Homo sapiens: one gene and its partners. The protein of the gene in region 1 interacts with the protein of each later gene in a pairwise test. Each region holds a gene or a part of one and is shown in the gene's direction. Other genes may lie near its edges.

What was found. Proteins that work in one complex are often made in the same cells at the same time.
Region 2: the proteins of SLC10A1 (region 1) and OTOP3 interact in binary tests that used the Homo sapiens proteins (3 or more experiments, as listed by UniProt).
Region 3: the proteins of SLC10A1 (region 1) and TAP1 interact in binary tests that used the Homo sapiens proteins (3 or more experiments, as listed by UniProt).
Region 4: the proteins of SLC10A1 (region 1) and DERL1 interact in binary tests that used the Homo sapiens proteins (3 or more experiments, as listed by UniProt).

What each region holds. Positions count from the first base shown.
Region 1 is NC_000014.9:69,793,669-69,799,510, reverse strand, and holds the start of SLC10A1 (hepatic sodium/bile acid cotransporter), read left to right. Parts: upstream 1-2,269; 5' UTR 2,270-2,355; coding exon 2,356-2,711; intron 2,712-5,842. UniProt on the Homo sapiens protein: As a major transporter of conjugated bile salts from plasma into the hepatocyte, it plays a key role in the enterohepatic circulation of bile salts necessary for the solubilization and absorption of dietary fat and fat-soluble vitamins.
Region 2 is NC_000017.11:74,948,184-74,950,673, forward strand, and holds the end of OTOP3 (proton channel OTOP3), read left to right. Parts: intron 1-1,062; coding exon 1,063-1,233; 3' UTR 1,234-1,809; downstream 1,810-2,490. UniProt on the Homo sapiens protein: Proton-selective channel gated by extracellular protons.
Region 3 is NC_000006.12:32,844,528-32,847,717, reverse strand, and holds the end of TAP1 (antigen peptide transporter 1), read left to right. Parts: intron 1-42; coding exon 43-205; intron 206-513; coding exon 514-650; intron 651-1,217; exon of another isoform or gene 1,218-1,932; coding exon 1,933-2,139; 3' UTR 2,140-2,509; downstream 2,510-3,190. UniProt on the Homo sapiens protein: ABC transporter associated with antigen processing. In complex with TAP2 mediates unidirectional translocation of peptide antigens from cytosol to endoplasmic reticulum (ER) for loading onto MHC class I (MHCI) molecules.
Region 4 is NC_000008.11:123,012,489-123,015,497, reverse strand, and holds the end of DERL1 (derlin-1), read left to right. Parts: coding exon 1-51; 3' UTR 52-2,328; downstream 2,329-3,009. UniProt on the Homo sapiens protein: Functional component of endoplasmic reticulum-associated degradation (ERAD) for misfolded lumenal proteins. Forms homotetramers which encircle a large channel traversing the endoplasmic reticulum (ER) membrane.

The sequences.
Region 1 (5,842 bases):
GTATTAAATTAGAGTAGATTCTGAGGGGATATGGGGAAAAGAATGGAGGGTGTCAGGTTCCTGGAAGAGATTTTTCCATTCTCTGCAAAGTCACATTGCTAGGAACAGAGGGAATGGGAAGGAGTGGGAGGAGGGGCAGCCAGGGCAAGAAACTGTTTTCTCAAAGGGAAAAACTCACAGTAGGAGGTGGAAGGATTTTGGGTTCCTGAGAAGAGGTGAGGAGGAAGAGTTGATAGAGACTACGTGGTTTAGAATCCAGGTTACAAATGTGTTCATAGGAACTCTTCTTCTCTTTGGATGTGCACAATAGACACATGCCCAGACCCTGATCTTTAACAGATATTGGTCAATTCCTCCTCACCCTTTGGCATCAGGCAAATGTGTAAAAACCTAACGTCTCCCTTTGACTTCAAGGCCTCATGTACGGTTGCACAAGACATCTGTAGAGTGGCGTCCCTAGCATTGTGTAGTGCCCAACCTGAACAGGTGTACCTGGCAGCCCTGCATGGCCTCCACCCTCACGTGCTTCCATATTGCATTGTGTACCATCTGGCCATCTGTGGTCTTGTACAGACCATCAGGTCCCTGAGAACAGGAACATGAATTATATAGTTTTTTTTATTTATTTATTTTTATTTTTTTTGCCTCCCATGGTGCCTGGTACTCAGTTAGTGATCAATAATTCTCCCCTAGCAACTCTGTTCCCTTCTGATTAGCCCCAGGGAGAGGAAGCAGCCTCCTCTGAGACTCAACCCTACCCTGTGGGAACGCTCAGTCCAGGCATCACATCCAGTGCCCAGTCCTCTGCCTGCCCTCCCTTTGATACCAGCCCAACTCAAGCACCAGGAAATCATTAGCAGAGACTCTCAAAGGAAAAGAGGCTTCAAGTTCATGTCACCCAGGGCCACAGTATACGGCCCCGCAGGCTGCCCACCGCGCAAGCCCAGGGAGCAGCCTTTTCATGGATATGATGCAATATGTATGGATCCTGCCATCCAACCCTTATCCAAGCAGGATTCCAGAGGCCTCAAGGCCATTCTTGGAGAGCTCTCATTTTCAGGTGGTTCCTTGCACCAAGCCAAAATCTGTCCCCACCTCCACCCAACAGTGGTTCACACCCTGGTCCCTATTCTGCCCTCTGGAGTCCTACATACAAAGCCTAATCACCTGTTTCAGACCCCACCCAGGCCTCCTAGGTTCCAACCAAGCCAAGAAGCAATTGTGTTTCTGAAGGAGACCCCTCCTCCCTTGTCCCACCTCTGCAGTGGGGATAGATGGAAAGAGCAAGGCCTAGGATAACCTCACACACTAGGTGGCCCCGCCCCTGGCATGCCCACCTCTCTCTGCTTCTGCTCCACGCCCCAAGCCTGGCTCCCAGCCTGAAACACACAGGCCCAGTGCAAAAGTAAAGCAATCAGGAAGTCAGGAAGAAAAGACTGCATTCCTGCTTCCTTCTCAGCAAGTTTTGCAAGCAATGGGCCTCCTCGGGCACAAAGCAATCTCCACAGCCAGGGTTCTCTCAGGTTGCTTTTCGGGGAAAGAGCCTCCAAGCTTCCTGAGAGCCCACCCACCATCCCAGCTGGTTATTCCCTCTGATGGTAAGCATTCCAGGTAGTGTGGAGCAGCCACCACCAGTATTCCTCCCTGGGACTCATACAGTCCCAGTTTGGGGATAAAACAAACATTTCCCCAGAACAGGCAGGGAGGATACTGGCATCCTCTCAGCTCCCAGGAAAAGGGTCATGGACACATCCCCTCCTGGAGGCCAGTGACATTGCCTGTCCCACACCCCCTTGGACTATGCTACCTGTATCTAGGAACCAAAGGCAACACCCAGCTCCTTTCACTCTCATGGGTTCTGGGGACAAATGATAACCCACTGGACATGGGGAGGGCACCTTCCCCCAACCAAGAAACTAAGGAATCAAGAGCGGAGCTGGGAAAAGGAGCTGCAGGGAAGGAGATGGGCTGGACCTAGATTCAGGTGGGCCCTGGGCAGGTCCCCAGTAACTGAATGAATGCCCATGAGGCACACTCAGTGGAGGGCAAAGGGGAGAAATAAGCCCAGAAGCAGCAAAGTGACAAGGGAGGAGTACAAGTAGCACCCAGGAATCCAGCAGAGGTCAGGGAGCTTGGGAGAGCTAGGGCAGGCAGATAAGGTTCTGGGCTGTTCCTCTTTGGGGCGACAGCCAGAGAAATAGCTCAGATAGTTGCATAACCCTTCTATTTGCCCAGAGCTTTTGTCCAGAAACTCTCTGTCCTGAGAGGTGATTAAAGAAGGCATCCAGCAAGAACTGCACAAGAAACGGAGTCAGCCGGAGAACAAGGAGTGGTCTTCCACTGCCTCACAGGAGGATGGAGGCCCACAACGCGTCTGCCCCATTCAACTTCACCCTGCCACCCAACTTTGGCAAGCGCCCCACAGACCTGGCACTGAGCGTCATCCTGGTGTTCATGTTGTTCTTCATCATGCTCTCGCTGGGCTGCACCATGGAGTTCAGCAAGATCAAGGCTCACTTATGGAAGCCTAAAGGGCTGGCCATCGCCCTGGTGGCACAGTATGGCATCATGCCCCTCACGGCCTTTGTGCTGGGCAAGGTCTTCCGGCTGAAGAACATTGAGGCACTGGCCATCTTGGTCTGTGGCTGCTCACCTGGAGGGAACCTGTCCAATGTCTTCAGTCTGGCCATGAAGGGGGACATGAACCTCAGGTAGGCCTGGGGGTGAGGAGGGAACAGCCTGGGACAGGAGCTACATTAGATATGTCACAATTGAGGGGAAGAGCTGGGCTAAAGCCAGGAAAAGGAGTGAATGCAGGCTGGGTGGAGGCTAGGGCAGGGGAAGTCTGGCATTTATTGCCAAGAGCTTATGCTGGGATGGGGGCAGGAGTTGGGGTACGTCTGGTTTAGGCACCAAGCCAAAGGGACCATACTGGTCCAGGAAGCTCGTGGTGATCTCCTTGCTTCCAGAGGTGTCTCAAGGATTGTCTTAAAGGAGCACTGATTAAAGCCAAAGGAACCTCTGGAGAACTGCATCCACCTACAACAGTGGACAAGTTGCCTGCTTTGAGCCCAGAGATTTAAAAGGTAGTGTGATTCGTTCCAAACATCATCAGGGAGATCAAGGTGACTTGGAACCAAATGAGCACCTCAAATTCCTGCAAAGCGGGCAAGAATTTCCAAAAGGTCCTCCCAATTACCTGGTCATCTAAGATGTTTTCTCTTTAAAGTCCCTCATTCCCCATCAGATGCAATGACATTTCCATGCAAAGGCACAACCAGGGAGATCCTAGAGTTTCCCAGCACCCACTCCAGATAGGCCAGCCCCATCTCAGCCACCCTGATAAGGGGAAGACAGCAGCACCCCCTAACCCCCTGCCCAAAGCATTATAAGCAGAAATCAGCAAGGGCTCGCTCCTGGAGACGCAGCACACAGGGGCTGGTTGATGCTCATCCTTCCAAACTGGGGAGACTCTAGTCTTGAACATCTGCCAGAGGAGCTACTTCAGACCTGCTCCAGCTCCAGCAGCCTGTGCTGAAGCTAAAGAAAACTCACTAGCAGAAGCTCTTGCTTTCAGTGAAACCTCAGTCTCAAGCCAGTCCCCCCTGGTTTAGTCCTCCGTGGAGACGCTATTCAATGCCAGGTATAGCAGCAGAACCCAGAAAGTCCATCTGCTTGTGTCTGTCAGCACCCTACTCCTAGCCAAACTTTCCTAGGAAAACTAACCCAGTCAAGAAGCCCCTCCTAGTGATGCAAAATGACACTGGGACAGATTTTTTAAATGAAAAAAGTGAGAATGGCTGGGCACGGTGGCTCACACCTATAATCCCAGCACTTTGGGAGGCCAAGGCAGGAAGATCACTTGAGACCAGGAGTTTAAGACCAACCTGGGCAACATAGCAAAACCCTGTGTCTACAAATATATACATATATATTTAATTAGCCAGGCATAGTGGCACATGCCTGTAGTCCCAGCTACTTGGGAGGCTGAGATGAGAGGATCTTTGAGCCTACGAGTTCAAGGCTACAGTGAGTCATGATCACACCACTGCACTCCAGCCTGGGCAACAGAGTGAGACCCTGTCTCTCTCTCAAAAAAAAAAAAAAAAAGGAAATAAAAAAGTGAGAGTGAATGAGAGTTGGGGTTTAACAGGATCTGCCATCTGAGAAGCTCTGGGCTCTTTTTCCATATGATTCAGCCCTCACTTTAGTAGTCAATGGGAAGAGAGGCACAAAGAGGGCATTTGGCTTGTGCCATCACCCACGGAAAGGTATTTCAATGTTCAACTACCTCACTGTGAGAAAATGCTTTCCTCTGTCTAATCCACATCCTCTCTGCTACAAAGCAAGCCCTTGGTCTTGGATCTGGCTTCTGGACAAGGCTCATGGCAGCCTGTGTGTCCCAAGAATCCTAGAGTATATCTGAATTTTGGTGTATGAGGGATGCAGAAGTCAGGGGCCTGCGAAGGGGTACTCTGAGGGCTTTGTGTTTCTGTGGAAGAAGCAGAGCAGGGGACGTGGAAGGCAACTGTGCTTTTAAGTGTGAGTGGCCAGATGTCCCAGCCCCATCGCCAGTGGCCACTATTGAGGCCTCTGCCACAATGCCTACATTGCTGTGGCTCTAGGCCCCACCCAGGCAGAGCCTCTGGTGACTCAAGAACATGACCCCTCATGCTCTCCTGCTCAACCTCCTTGTCCAGACCCCTGATGACTGTCATTTTTACCTAGACCCCCACAAGAGATAAGCTCTGCTGGGACAGCCACCTTCTGCCATAAAACTCCTTCCCAACAAACAACCCTCCCATGCACATTAAACCATGTCTCAGATCCCACTGTCGGAATGGGAATCTGGTCATCTACCTTCATGTGCTGCCAGACTTCAAATCCCATTCCAATTTGGGACAACTTGTTACATGCATTATAATAATGACAACGATTATAAGAAACAGCCAGGCACAGTGCTAAACACCTTACCTGGATAAGTATATGTGATCCTCCTACAGCACCCTGGGGGACAGCATGTAACAAGTAGCATTTAGAGGTAAGGAAACTGAATCTTAGAGAGGTCAATACATTGGCTCCAGGTCTGGGTGGCTCCGGAACCTGTGCTTTTACTGAAATATCTTCCAGGTCAGCATTTCCACAAACAAAATGGCCAGACAGCCTCAAAGGCATGGGCAGACACCCGTGTCTCAGCAGCAAGTATTGTGTGGGAGCCAGAGCTTCCCACTTTTCAAAAGAAGGTAAAATATCCATTTTATGTGAAATCAGCAACTCATTCCATTTTTTTAAATGTGCAAACCAAACAATACATGTCAAAGGGCCAGCTGTAGCCCAAAGGCCCCAGTTTGAGATAAGCACAATACTCTACATCCCATTTAGAACTGGAAGGAATTGTAAGACACAGATCCCATTTTACACATGAAGAGGCTGAGGTCAGAGACTTGCCAGAGGTTTCCCAGAGTTTGTGGGAAACTGTGTCTCCCTCCACTCACTCTGCCTCATAGGTGGAGTCAGTCTGGGGACAGCCTGCCATCCCAGGAGGCCAGGCCACCAAGCAGACCCCTCAATGCAGCCAGGGACGGCAGCTCCCTCCTCAAGGAAGGCCACTAGACAAGTTTCAAAAAATGTAGGTGACAAACAGGCAAGAGAAAACGCCCTCACAGTTGAAGTGAGTATGGCTTGTCAGGCACAGAGAAGAGAGTGCTATGCCAGCAGGAACTGGCCTCTTTTGACCATCCTTGCTGCCCCAAGTTCATCTGCTCCCCCTGCCACCATCGGACTCACAGCAGAGCCCAGAGCCAATGGCCATGGGGACAATGGGCTTGGACACAACCCAAGC
Region 2 (2,490 bases), on another chromosome or scaffold:
AGGGGTAGAATTTGGACAGGAAGGTAGGAGGGGGCAGGGGGTCATAACTAGCAGAAATGACAGGGCACAGTGGCTCACACCTGTAATCCCAGCACTTTGGGAGGCCGAGGGAGGAGGATCCCTTGAGCCCAGGAGTTTAAGACCAACCTGGGCAACACAGGGAGACCCTGTCTCTACAAAAAAAATTTTAAATTAGTCTGGGCACGGTGGCTCACGCCTGTAAGCCCAGCACTTCGGGAGACTGAGGTGAGTGGATCATTTGAGGCCAGGAGTTGGAGACCAGCCTGGGCAACATGGTAAACCCCATCTCTACTAAAAATACAAAAATTAGCCAGGCATGGTGGTGCACACCTGTAATTCCAGCTACTCGGGAGGCTGAGGCACGAGAATTGCTCAAACCCAGGAGGCAGAGGTTTCAGTGAGCTGAGATCGTGCCACTGCACTCCAGCCTGGGTGACAGAGTGAGACTCTGTATCTTAAAAAATAGTAATAATAAAAATAAAAATTAGCCAGGCATGATGGTGCATGCCTGTAGTCCCAGCTACTTGGGAGGCTGAGGTGGGAGGATCACTTGAGCCCGGGAGGTTGAGGCTGCAGTGAGCTGTGATCCTGCCACTGCACTCCAGCCTGAGTGACAGAGTGAGACCTGTCTCAAAAAAATAAATAAATAATAAAAATAAAAAGTAGCTAGCCGAGGAGTGAAGCCCGAGCTCAGGGTACAGGGTGGGGGTGCCCAGCTTGACAGAGCAGGTGGCGCGCTGGGAATTCCTGCTTCTCCCCACACGTGGCGGCAGCCTGGGGTCTCCTGACCCATCTGAAGTTCAGGCTGGCCACAGGCAAGCTCACAGAGATGGCTGGGGATAGCTAAGGCCTTCTGCAGTAGGGCGAGAAAGATCTGGGGGAAAGAAGAGCTCACGCTGAAAGCCCAAGGGTTAGAAGAAGACTGAGCGGGAGGTGGGGGTGGCACTGGAGGGGCTGCAGGTTTGGGGGCTGCCTCCCCTGAACTGAGTGCCTTGGGGCACAGGAGAGCCCTTCCCTAACTCAGCACATCCTCTTCCCCAGCTGTGGATGATGCCTGCATTTGGCATACACCCGGAGTTTGAGAACGGGCTAGAAAAGGATTTCTACGGCTACCAGATATGGTTCGCCATCGTCAACTTCGGCCTGCCTCTGGGGGTCTTCTACCGCATGCACTCTGTGGGAGGCCTGGTGGAGGTCTACCTGGGGGCCTGAGGCTGCCCACCCCCGGCAGAACCTCGAAGTGCCAAGGTGGGGAAGATGGTAGCCCAGAGTCTCTGAGCAGATGCCTCATTCTGAGGTGCCGAGACCAGCCTGAGGCTCTCAAGGCCTCCTGCTCCCCAGAGCCTCACTGAAGGGGAGGGCACTGCCTAGAGCCAGAGGCCAACAGCAGGGGCCTGGACACTGAGCTTCTGATGCCCACGGCCAGGCCTGGGCACATGCCTGCCCCCTGCCTTCCCACCACGATCCGCAAGCCAAGGGTGCACCCCAGGAGGCTGGCAGGGGCCCCCTCACGGCTACTCTGTGGGAGGGTCAGACCTACATGACCGAGTCTGGGGAGCTTGGCGAGGGGCACCCCTCTCCAGCCAGGACTCAGAGGTCTGCCCCCTGCTGCGAGAAGAGCACCTGGTCCAAGTGTGGCTCTGGACATCCTCAGAGCTCAGAGCTCCGAGCTAGGAGGCCAGCTCCTCTCCCCACACACCTGTCTCCTAATGAGCTCATTCATTGGCTGCCAGGCAGGGTTCAACAGCTCTCTCCTGCCGCATAAACCCTATTTGTTTAATGGATTGCATTCAGGCTCATGGCATTTGTTCCCAGGGACAGAACTGCTCCTCCGGACATGGTGGGAAGGAATGGTCCTTTTGAGTAGGGCTGTGGGGCTGGGACAGTCCTGCTTCCGGGCCAGGAGGGGTCTAACCCAGTTCTTCCTTGGTCTGATCCGGGGGAAGAGGTGGGAGAGACAAGTCCGGGCTCGTGTCTCTCCACCCCCACCCCTCCCCAGCACACCCTCTCTCTAGGACAGAGCCCCCGGTGACATTCTGCAGCGGGCTCACCATGCAGGCTGTGGCCCCTGGCTGCCGGTCCCAGGCCTGGCTCATCTCCTGAGCCATCAGGTAGGGCAGGAACGGAAGAGAAAGGGCAGGTGTGGCAGGCCATCCGTCTCCCTGAGCCCAGTGCAAACAGTGGGCTCTGCCTGGGACGAGGCCAGAGAGGGCAGCCCTGGCCCTGCAGGTGAGGCTCTGCCCTCCTCCTCACCCACCCCCACCGAAGTGAGTCACTAGCAAGCATAGCCCTCCCAGCGCTGTCTCAGTGGCTGCCTGGTGAGGCCCCATGGCCTCTCCTGTGGGCTCTTTCTCTGGGCAGCAACAGCCCAGGGGCCCAAACCCTAGGTGACAGGGTCTGATCCTGCTTTCCCACCCAAGAAAATAACAAATGCTGGTTCCCAGTCATGCACTGGGGGCCCTCTGGGGT
Region 3 (3,190 bases), on another chromosome or scaffold:
CATGTGCCTTGTTCTATGACTCTTCATCATATTTCATCTCAGGTGGCTGCAGTGGGACAAGAGCCACAGGTATTTGGAAGAAGTCTTCAAGAAAATATTGCCTATGGCCTGACCCAGAAGCCAACTATGGAGGAAATCACAGCTGCTGCAGTAAAGTCTGGGGCCCATAGTTTCATCTCTGGACTCCCTCAGGGCTATGACACAGGTACTCTCTCCACTCATCTCACCACCCAGCCATCTTTACCTTTGCTGAAACCCCAGTAGTCTTGCCTTTATCCTTCAGTTCCTCCTTACTCATGGACATCAATTTGAAGTTGTAAGATCATGCTCCTATGGCTTCTTCATCCTGACATCCTCAGGATTCTGTTCATCTTCCCAGAATCTCCCCTATCCAGCTACAACCGTCAGATCTTGGTGTGTGTGAGTGCGTGAATGCATGAGTGTGTCTGTGTGCATGTACATGCGTGCACACATGTGGCTATACCGTTCTCATCTTGGCCCTTTGCTCTGCAGAGGTAGACGAGGCTGGGAGCCAGCTGTCAGGGGGTCAGCGACAGGCAGTGGCGTTGGCCCGAGCATTGATCCGGAAACCGTGTGTACTTATCCTGGATGATGCCACCAGTGCCCTGGATGCAAACAGCCAGTTACAGGTGAGGCAGTCATCTTCTTAATGGCTATATCCCACCCAATCTTGCTTCTTTTATACATCTTCTGTTAGTTTTACTAACATCATAATTATACAAACCAGTCCTTGCAGTTCTCAGTTCCCAAATCCAGTTCCATTGGATGCCTCCCCAAGGAGTAGAGATAGAAGACGAGGCAAAGACACCTAGAATCAGTTAAAAGAGACTATCTACAAACTACAGACTGAATTTCTTTCTTTCTTTCCTTTTTTTTTTTTAAGACAGTGTCTCACTCAGTTGCCCAGGCTGGAGCGCAGTGGCACAATCTTGGCTCACTGCAGCTTCAACCTGCTGGGCTCAAGCGATTCTCCCCTCAGCCTCCCGAGTAGCTGGGACTACAGGTGTACACCACTATGCCTGGTTGACTTTTATATTTTTAGTAGAGATGGGTTTCACCATGTTGCCCAGGCTGGCCTTGAATTCCTGAGCTCAGGTAATCTGCCCCCCTCAGCCTCCCAAAGGGCTGGGGTTATAGGTGTGAGCCACTGCGCCCAGTCCTATAGACTGAATTTCTAAAGCGAAACATAAGGAAAAGACCATCCTCATAATATCGTTTATTTAAAAAAATTATTTTTTGTACAGACAGCGTCCCGCTATGTTGCCCAGGCTGGCCTTGAACTCCTGGGCCCAAGTGATCCTCCCTCCTTGACCTCCCAAAGTGCTAGGATTATAGGCATGAGCCACCGGGCCCAGCCCATCCTAATCATATTAATATTAATTAAGCTAGTCTGTTTACATGCACTGTCACTCATTTATTCATTAGGAATCCTTCTGAGCTAGGCATTTATCATCATTCTACAGATGACAAAATGGAGGTTAAAAGAGGTTGAATAAGCTGCTCATATAGAGGTCATATAGCTTTTGAGTGGCGCAGCCTTGACCCAAATTCAGGTCTGCCTGACTTGAATGCTCATCTCTTTACTACTAAGTTATATTTCCTTAAAATCGAATATAAAAATGCCAAGTCCATGGGTAGAGAAGAGGACTATTCAATAGTCTTTATTCTTCTGTCACGTGTTTCACCCTAGGGTTCTCATTTTTATCCTACTTTTGCACCCTTCATGTAAAACAGTCCTTAATGAAACAAAGGGTTTGCGGAGAAGTACTCAGAATGGGAAACGTTGGTGTCCTTGGGGTTGTTAGCAGAGCCAGCAGTGATCCTGTGAGGTCAGTCCCAGCCCTGGAAACACAGGTGTCTCCCTGGGCTGAGGGTAGTCCCCGGCTCTGACGGTCCGATGTCTTTCCTCAGGTGGAGCAGCTCCTGTACGAAAGCCCTGAGCGGTACTCCCGCTCAGTGCTTCTCATCACCCAGCACCTCAGCCTGGTGGAGCAGGCTGACCACATCCTCTTTCTGGAAGGAGGCGCTATCCGGGAGGGGGGAACCCACCAGCAGCTCATGGAGAAAAAGGGGTGCTACTGGGCCATGGTGCAGGCTCCTGCAGATGCTCCAGAATGAAAGCCTTCTCAGACCTGCGCACTCCATCTCCCTCCCTTTTCTTCTCTCTGTGGTGGAGAACCACAGCTGCAGAGTAGGCAGCTGCCTCCAGGATGAGTTACTTGAAATTTGCCTTGAGTGTGTTACCTCCTTTCCAAGCTCCTCGTGATAATGCAGACTTCCTGGAGTACAAACACAGGATTTGTAATTCCTTACTGTAACGGAGTTTAGAGCCAGGGCTGATGCTTTGGTGTGGCCAGCACTCTGAAACTGAGAAATGTTCAGAATGTACGGAAAGATGATCAGCTATTTTCAACATAACTGAAGGCATATGCTGGCCCATAAACACCCTGTAGGTTCTTGATATTTATAATAAAATTGGTGTTTTGTACTGTGGTTTCTTATGTTTCCGGCACACCAAACGGCCCACTGCCTTTTGCAGCGCACTTTTCAGCTGCGGATGTCTCCTCTTTTATCATCCTCAATGTTTTACCCCCTAACTGCATCACCTTTTCCCTTAAGCTTTTTAATTCCTATGAGGCCCCTTCCACTTCCCCTATCCCCTTAGGCCCACCCCCAAGAATGTGCAAGACCCCAGCCACAGGGCCCATCAGGGCACTAGCGGCCGCAGCTCAGAGCCGTGGCCTCTCCGAAGTGGCAGATGGGGCGGGCGCGGCCAGAGCAAGTGCCAGGCGGGAACAGAGGGACTGGGCGCGCCTCACAACTCACCACCTCGCCCGCTGGTCCTTCCTGGCTCGCCTGGCTCTGAAGCTGCACCTGGAGGGGAAACCTCAGAACAGTAGGCGGGATTGCCTAGTAAATATCTCCCATTCAGGGAGGCCCAGGTCGTGTGACGTCGACAGTTGCTGGGTAGATGAGGCCAACACAGGTTGCAAGAAGAGGCGGGGTTTAGAGGCGTGAAACTCCGCAGTGCTCAGCCAAGCAGGGAGCAACGCTAGGAAGGGCGGGCAGAAAGGGCACGCTCTTGTGGGTGACTACAGGTTAGGAGACCGTTGAACCTGGAGGGGCCCTAGGATGGACCCCGTGGAAAGATTCAGAGACTGCGCCCTCT
Region 4 (3,009 bases), on another chromosome or scaffold:
GGAGGCGGGAGACACAACTGGGGCCAGGGCTTTCGACTTGGAGACCAGTGAAGGGGCGGCCTCGGGCAGCCGCTCCTCTCAAGCCACATTTCCTCCCAGTGCTGGGTGCACTTAACAACTGCGTTCTGGCTAACACTGTTGGACCTGACCCACACTGAATGTAGTCTTTCAGTACGAGACAAAGTTTCTTAAATCCCGAAGAAAAATATAAGTGTTCCACAAGTTTCACGATTCTCATTCAAGTCCTTACTGCTGTGAAGAACAAATACCAACTGTGCAAATTGCAAAACTGACTACATTTTTTGGTGTCTTCTCTTCTCCCCTTTCCGTCTGAATAATGGGTTTTAGCGGGTCCTAGTCTGCTGGCATTGAGCTGGGGCTGGGTCACCAAACCCTTCCCAAAAGGACCCTTATCTCTTTCTTGCACACATGCCTCTCTCCCACTTTTCCCAACCCCCACATTTGCAACTAGAAGAGGTTGCCCATAAAATTGCTCTGCCCTTGACAGGTTCTGTTATTTATTGACTTTTGCCAAGGCTTGGTCACAACAATCATATTCACGTAATTTTCCCCCTTTGGTGGCAGAACTGTAGCAATAGGGGGAGAAGACAAGCAGCGGATGAAGCGTTTTCTCAGCTTTTGGAATTGCTTCGACCTGACATCCGTTGTAACCGTTTGCCACTTCTTCAGATATTTTTATAAAAAAGTACCACTGAGTCAGTGAGGGCCACAGATTGGTATTAATGAGATACGAGGGTTGTTGCTGGGTGTTTGTTTCCTGAGCTAAGTGATCAAGACTGTAGTGGAGTTGCAGCTAACATGGGTTAGGTTTAAACCATGGGGGATGCAACCCCTTTGCGTTTCATATGTAGGCCTACTGGCTTTGTGTAGCTGGAGTAGTTGGGTTGCTTTGTGTTAGGAGGATCCAGATCATGTTGGCTACAGGGAGATGCTCTCTTTGAGAGGCTCCTGGGCATTGATTCCATTTCAATCTCATTCTGGATATGTGTTCATTGAGTAAAGGAGGAGAGACCCTCATACGCTATTTAAATGTCACTTTTTTGCCTATCCCCCGTTTTTTGGTCATGTTTCAATTAATTGTGAGGAAGGCGCAGCTCCTCTCTGCACGTAGATCATTTTTTAAAGCTAATGTAAGCACATCTAAGGGAATAACATGATTTAAGGTTGAAATGGCTTTAGAATCATTTGGGTTTGAGGGTGTGTTATTTTGAGTCATGAATGTACAAGCTCTGTGAATCAGACCAGCTTAAATACCCACACCTTTTTTTCGTAGGTGGGCTTTTCCTATCAGAGCTTGGCTCATAACCAAATAAAGTTTTTTGAAGGCCATGGCTTTTCACACAGTTATTTTATTTTATGACGTTATCTGAAAGCAGACTGTTAGGAGCAGTATTGAGTGGCTGTCACACTTTGAGGCAACTAAAAAGGCTTCAAACGTTTTGATCAGTTTCTTTTCAGGAAACATTGTGCTCTAACAGTATGACTATTCTTTCCCCCACTCTTAAACAGTGTGATGTGTGTTATCCTAGGAAATGAGAGTTGGCAAACAACTTCTCATTTTGAATAGAGTTTGTGTGTACCTCTCCATATTTAATTTATATGATAAAATAGGTGGGGAGAGTCTGAACCTTAACTGTCATGTTTTGTTGTTCATCTGTGGCCACAATAAAGTTTACTTGTAAAATTTTAGAGGCCATTACTCCAATTATGTTGCACGTACACTCATTGTACAGGCGTGGAGACTCATTGTATGTATAAGAATATTCTGACAGTGAGTGACCCGGAGTCTCTGGTGTACCCTCTTACCAGTCAGCTGCCTGCGAGCAGTCATTTTTTCCTAAAGGTTTACAAGTATTTAGAACTCTTCAGTTCAGGGCAAAATGTTCATGAAGTTATTCCTCTTAAACATGGTTAGGAAGCTGATGACGTTATTGATTTTGTCTGGATTATGTTTCTGGAATAATTTTACCAAAACAAGCTATTTGAGTTTTGACTTGACAAGGCAAAACATGACAGTGGATTCTCTTTACAAATGGAAAAAAAAAATCCTTATTTTGTATAAAGGACTTCCCTTTTTGTAAACTAATCCTTTTTATTGGTAAAAATTGTAAATTAAAATGTGCAACTTGAAGGTTGTCTGTGTTAAGTTTCCATGTCCCTGCTCTGCTGTCTCTTAGATATCACATAATTTGTGTAACCAATTATCTCTTGAAGAGCATTTAGGAAGTACCCAGTATTTTTTGCTGGATTAATTCCTGGATGCAGAATTCCTGGGTTTTCATTTTAATGAAGGAGGATGCTTGCTAACTTTGAGTGAGGAGTCATATCTGATTGTAGCATGCTTTATGGCATTTTTATAGCTTCTACCCATGGATCTGAGCCCTGGAACTTTATAAAATTAGTTTAATCCTGTTTCCTCATAAGGCACACACAGACTAGATAGCAGGTGCCATGACATTCCTGAGCCCTTTTTTTTTTTTTTCCTCGAGGGTGAACATCCCAGTCTGTATCTTGGGCCTTCGACAGGCCAACTTCACTCATCACAAGGTGAGGTGACAGGAAGCAGGTTGTATGTATGTCCCTCTTCTATTACTGGGGAAATACTGAAGCAATAGAAAAAGATCCCGCTTATTTAGAAGGACACATTGCCAGTATCATTGTGTTCTAAGCTACCTTTTGAATGACATGGATCTAATAATAGGCAATGTTGCAGTTGCCAACATCTTCGTTTATTGCCAACTCTGTTTCTGAGGTCCCTGCCCCTCTTACACTTTCAGCAGTAACTTAACACTCTGAATAACTAACCTTTGAAAGAAGTTACTCCTTTCTGGACTTTATACTGTTTTTTTCTTAGAAGGCTGGGCTGAGCAAATGGGTTTACTGGCAGTTCACTTGTTTGCCTTCCAGAGTGACTGGTGATCAGAATTGGCCAGGAATACCATGTCCTGTGTTTACTTCTTTCTTAACCCTCCCTCCCACCTTCCCTCC